Regions from separate parts of the Homo sapiens genome. Here region 2 is linked to region 1. The links come from fine-mapping of genetic effects on gene expression. A gene starts in region 1. The other region holds a variant in brackets. All regions are shown on one strand. Distances are from middle to middle.

The links. PIP is the estimated chance that this variant, and not a neighbour inherited with it, causes the effect. A credible set is the group of variants that fine-mapping cannot tell apart.
Region 2: its variant is the best candidate, but not a certain one, in a credible set for the expression of MAGED2 in nasal epithelium (TOPMed, PIP 0.62).

Annotation. Positions count from the first base shown.
Region 1 is chrX:54,806,065-54,808,982 of GRCh38, reverse strand. It overlaps MAGED2 (MAGE family member D2), which reads right to left and starts at 1,238. Exons shown (of 13, transcript NM_177433.3): 1 at 1,181-1,238.
Region 2 is chrX:54,891,309-54,894,226 of GRCh38, reverse strand. No RefSeq gene overlaps it. Among named protein-coding and RNA genes, the nearest start is that of TRO, 28 kb to the left of the region's middle. The variant A/T (reference allele first, on the strand shown) is at 1,800.

The sequences.
Region 1 (2,918 bases):
TTCCCAGCACGAGCCCTTTCTTTGATGTCCACCGTGCACATGCGCATTCAGCAGCTGGCTCTTCTCAGTGCTGGCCCTTCTCAACACGCCCCTTTCTAGCGAAACATAGTGCGCATGCGCAATGGTCGTGGTCTCAGTCTGGCACTCTGCCCCAACACACGCCCCTCTCCAGGTCCGCAGTACCATTCGGTCCCGCCCCCTGCCCAACAAGCCTTCCTCCAAAATTGTCGCAGTGTCTGGTGGACCCGGCCCCTCCCCTACTCACGCCCTACAGAGTCCAGTGTCTCTTGGCCCCGCCCTTCTTCCTAACACGCCCCCCTCCAAACAGGCGCATCTTGGTTCCGCCCCTTCCCTATTACACCCCCTCCTCAAATAAATACTGAGCTAGTGATTCCATCTTGGGCCCGGCCAAACCGGGTCCAGTCCCCTCCCTTCCCAGCCGGATGGATCCGGTACGATCCGGTCCTTAAGGCAGGTTTTCTCCAGATCCCAGAGGGTGGGGCCGACCCCTAGCGGGGCTCTCATCCAAAAGCCGACCCGGCTGCTCACCTCGTCCTCCTACAATTCCCGAGTGCGTCCACTCACTCCAAGCCCCTCCGAAACTCGGAGACTGCCCTCCCCTCTCTAGGCCGGAAGTGGTCCCGCCCCTTTCCGCCTCCCTAGGGGGCCTCCGTCCCAGCCTGTCTGCCCCTCCCCCGCTCCCTGCTCCTCATTCCTTATGCCCCCCTCCGTATTCCCTTAGCCTGGCTCCCTACTCCCTATTCCTACCTCACATTTCCTATTTACTCCAGAATTCCTTCTTCCCATTTCTTACATCCTCCTCCGTGTTACGTTTGCACACCCTGCCCCTCAGTATTCCTTAATCCCTCTCTGCATCCCCGATTCTCTTCTCTGGATCTTCACTCCCCCTCAGTGTTCCCCTCCCTCCTTGTATTCCTCGTCCCCCTCCCAACATTCCTGGTTCCCCGTTTTTCTCCCCTCCTCCCTCCGCTAGTCTCTGCTCCCAGTCTGTACAGCCTACTACTTTCTCAGTCGTCCTCATTGCCTACACCCCACTCCAGGTCACCTCTGCTTCAGCTGCAGTGGTGCAGTAAGAATTGCTCATCTGCCTGGCTATGGGTTCGAGGGGTCTGGAACCACTGTCTGACCTCCATAAAACCCCAATATCAACGCCCCTCACCTTGTCCTCCAGCGAGTTCGGGATGCGTCTGCCTTCTCTAAGTCCCTCTCGAAGTCTCAGCCTCCTGGACTAGAGCTGCAGACAGCCCAACCCAGCCCAGCCCCTTTCCGCAGCCCCCTGCCACCCCCCCTCGCCTTCCTCGGGGGTGGGGCAATGGGGCCCCGCTCAGGGCTGTCTGACGCCAAAGCCCATGTTTATGCCACTGTACCAGGCTCAGTCTGAAGCTCTTCCAACTCAAACCGCCCCCTGAAAGCAAGTCATTCATTGAATTTATTTTTATATCTTCATTTTTTCTTATTACAAAGGTAATATGTTGTTCTTTTGTTGTTGTTGTAAAAATTCAAACAATGCAGTAATATATAACACACCAATGAAAGGCCACTCATCTCCCAGAAATAACCACTATTAACATTTTGCTATCCAGATTTTTTTTCTATTCGTATACTAATTATTCAGGTTCTCTCTCCGACAAATGGTACACTATACATACCTTCTGTTCTGCGACCTGTTTTTTTCCAGTTATATATAAAACATCTTTCCGTTAGTGCACATTTTTCTAAACAGCTGCATGATCTTTTCTTGCATAGATGTCCCATAATTTATTGAACCAGTCCAGTACACATGTACATTTAGATTGCTTGGTGCACTTTTTGTTATTTATGGTATTTTTTGCTAGCTCAAATGCTACAAAAAAGTCTTCCATTTTGATGCAAAATTTGTCAACTTACTCCTAAAAAGTAAATGGATAACATTCCCGCCAGCAATGTCTCTCCTGTACATGTCACATATTACAAATATTTTTCATGTTATTTATGATAATTTTTGCCAAACAAAAATGTTTAATTATTATGTAGTCAAATATATCCATTTTTCCTTCATCACAACTGGATTCTGCTGCTTGCTTAAAGATGCTTTTCACACTCCTATAACAAACCCCGTTTTTTTTTTCAAGCACTTTTGTGGCTTTATTATTTACATTTAGATGTTTGATCATTTCAAAATTTATTTTCTATACGGATTCAGCTTGATTACTCTTCAAAATCATAGTCTCTTACCTCTACATCATGTGCAAACTAATCCATCTTTTCCCTCTCTGCTTTGAAATGGCACCTCTATCACATAATAAATTCACATAACCAATTGGATCTGTTCAAGAGAACAAAATAAGATGTAAAATAATAGGAAATAGACAAATCATCATTAATTACTGAATATATAAATGCAGACCTGGAAAACCCAAGAGCATCAACTAAAAAGTTATTAGAAACCATAATAAAATTCAGCACAACTGTTAGTTGCAGAAATAATATTCAGTGCCTTTCCACATATAAATGTAATTCAAATGGACACAAGTCTTCTGCTTTATGTGGTCACCTTTTACTATGTAAATAACATATAATGAATCCCTGTGTTCCATGGATAATTCAAGATAGACAAACACACAAATTTCTTGCATATTCAAGGCAGGCTTCTGTTTTCCTGTCTTTTCTCTTTCTCTGAATTATTGCTTTCTCCAAGTGTGTGATATCAGTTCACCATGTTCTTGCCTCCTAGATTTTCTCCCTTATCCACACTAGACATAGCCCCTCCTTTTCTTCTACTTCTGGCATCTCAAATTCCCCACCCCTTCCAAATCATGGCAAGTTGGCAAGTTTAGAATGCCAAGATGAGGACTTTGGTGTTGATCCTGAGAGCACCCAGGAGTTACTAAAGAATTCTAGGCAAGGATACAGCATAG
Region 2 (2,918 bases), 85 kb before region 1:
GCACCTTTGTTTAGCTGCTTAGGACTCAGGGGGCTGTGTAGGACCCAGTGTGAGCTCCCTCTCTGAAGCAATGCCATCACACAGTCTCCAGATAGCTCCCTATGTTAGTCTCAGGGTCCATGAGGGCCGAGGGGCTCTCCTATGGCTAGGATTGCAGGTGTCTACGGTGGGAATGTGGACCACTGGGGATGTCTCACTTACCCTTTCCCCACATTAGGAAGACTCTCTGTGCTCCCAGCTGATCCTAGCCAAGCAGCCTGCCTTGCTTCCCGCTCCTTCCTTCTTTTAGGTGTTTCCTGTCATTTCTTTGCTGAATTCCAGTGTTCTCTCTTAGATGATCTGCTCCAAATGTGATTATCTACTCATTGTTTTAATTATTCTAAACTAAAAAAGAACTTTAGTTTAGAAGGAGGTGAGTACCAGATGCCTCTAGTCAGCCATCTTGAAGCCAGAAACTTCTCTCCAGAAGTTAAATACAATCCTGGTGAAAAGTAGAGGGTCACAGGAGAAGGGGTCTATAAATAGCTAAAATTTTATAAGTTTCTACCATCCAGTTCAGTAGAGATGGTAAAAGGGAAGATCAGTGTTAAAGAAAGCAAAGAAAGTAACATTTCTTACATTCTTAAGTTGGTGGGCTTTATTTTGAGCAAATATTTATGTAGGTAGGCTTAGAAATAGTTATAAGTAGAAAAGCCAACATATTTCATTTTTAACTTTTATTTTAGGTTCACGGGTACATATGCAAGTTTGTTATATAGGTAAACTCACGTCACGGGGTTTGTTGTACAGATTAGTTCATCACCCAGGTACTAAGCCTAGAACCCAATAGTTGTTTTTTTCTGTTTCTCTCCCTCCTCCCAACCTCCACCCTCAATTAGACCCCAGTATCTGTTATTCCCCTCTTTGTATCCATATGTTCTCATTATTTAGCTCCCACTTATAAGTGAGAACATACGGTATTTGGTTTTCTGTTTCTGTGTTAGTTTGCTAAGGATAATGGCCTCCAGGTCCATCCATGTTCCTACAAAGGACATGGTCTTGTTCTTTTTTCTGGCTGTGCAGTATTCCATAGCATATATGTAACACATTTTCTTTATCCAGTCTACCACTGATGGGCATTTAGGTTGATTCCCTGTCTTTGCTATTGTGAATAGTGGTGCAATGAAGATACACATGCATAGGCCTTTGTGGTAGAATGGTTTATATTCCTTTGGGTATATACCTGGTAATGGAATTGCTGGGTCAAATGGTGGTTTTTTTGTTTTGTTTTGTTCTTTTGTTTGTTTTGTTTTGTTTTGTTTTTTAGCTCTTTGAGGAATCACCACACTGCTTTCCACAATGGTTGAACTAATTTACCACCAACAATGTATAGGCATTCCTTTTTCCCCACAACCTTGCCAGCACCTGTTATTTTTTTTTTCACTTTTTAATAATAGCCATTCTGACTGGTGTAAGATGGTATCTCTTGTGGTTTTGAATTGCATTTCTCTAATGATCAATGATGTTGAGCTTTTTTTCATATGCTTGTTGTCCACATGCATGTCTTCTTTTCAGAAGTGTCTGTTCATGTACTTTGTCTACTTTTTAATGGGGTTGATTTTTTTTTCTTATAAATTTAAGTTCCTTATGGATGCTAAATATTAGATCTTTGTCAGATGCATAGTTTGCAAAAATTTACTACCATTTTGTAGGTTGTCTGTTTACTCTGTTGATAATTTCTTTTGCTGTGCAGAGGTCTTTGGTTTAATTAGATGCCATTGTCAACTTTTGCTTTTGTTGCAATTGCTTTTGGCATCTTC[A/T]TTATGAAATCTTTGCCTGTTCCTATGTCCAGAATGGTTATCCCAGCACCAGTTATTGAATACGGAGTTTTTTTTCCCCCCTTACTTGTTTTTGTCAGCTTTGTCAAAGATCAGGTGGTTGTGAGTATGTGGCATTATTTCTGGGCTCTCTTCTGTTCCATTGGTCTATGTGTCTATTTTTGTACCAGTACCATGCTGTTTTGGTTATTGTAGCCCTGTAGTATAGTTTGAAGCCTCCTGCTTTGTTCTTTTTGCTTAGGATTGTCGTAGCTATTCAGGATCTATTTGGTTCCATATCAATTTTAAAATAGTTTTTTTTGGTTCTGTGAAGAATGTCGTTGGTAATTTGACAGGAATAGCATTGAATTTGTAAATTGCTTTGGGCGATAAGTCCATTTTAATATTGATTATTCCTATCCATGAGCACAGAATGTTTTTCCATTTGTTTGTGTCATCTCTAATTTCTTTGAAGAATGCTTTGTAATTCTCATTTTAGAGACTTTTCACATCCCTGGTTAGCTGTATTTCTAAGAATTTTATTTTTTGTGTATGGTAATTGTGAATGGGATTGCGTTCCTGATTTAGCTGTTGGCTAGTTAACCAGCCATACCAATGCCTCAGAACACAAGAATAAGACTCCTACTGCCACCTCGTGGCAGTATACTCTAAAGGGGAGGCTCTCATTAGTTTGGAGTGAAGAAATGCTTTCTCCCTCTATGCCATGCTGTATCATGTCCCTATGTATGTTGTATACTTCTACACATGCCATCTCTTCTAACCAGAACCATCCTTCCCTGAACCTTGTCGATTTAATGGATATTAGGTCTCATTTGTGTGTTATCTCAACCCAAGTAACCATTTCTCTATGAAGCCTTTTCTGTCTCTCCATCTTTCTCAACACAAGTAGAAATAACCTCTTCTTTCTTTGTGTTCCAATAAGCTTAAGTTCCAATAATCCACGTACAGATGTCTACGTGTTACCTAGACCAATTTACTACTGATTTTTTTTCACATACGTCCCTTCTCAAAAACTTAGCTGATCAAACATATGAATCTACGTGTGACTAATCTTAGGGTCTCCAAACTACAAAGCAAAAGGCAGACACAGATTATGAAAGC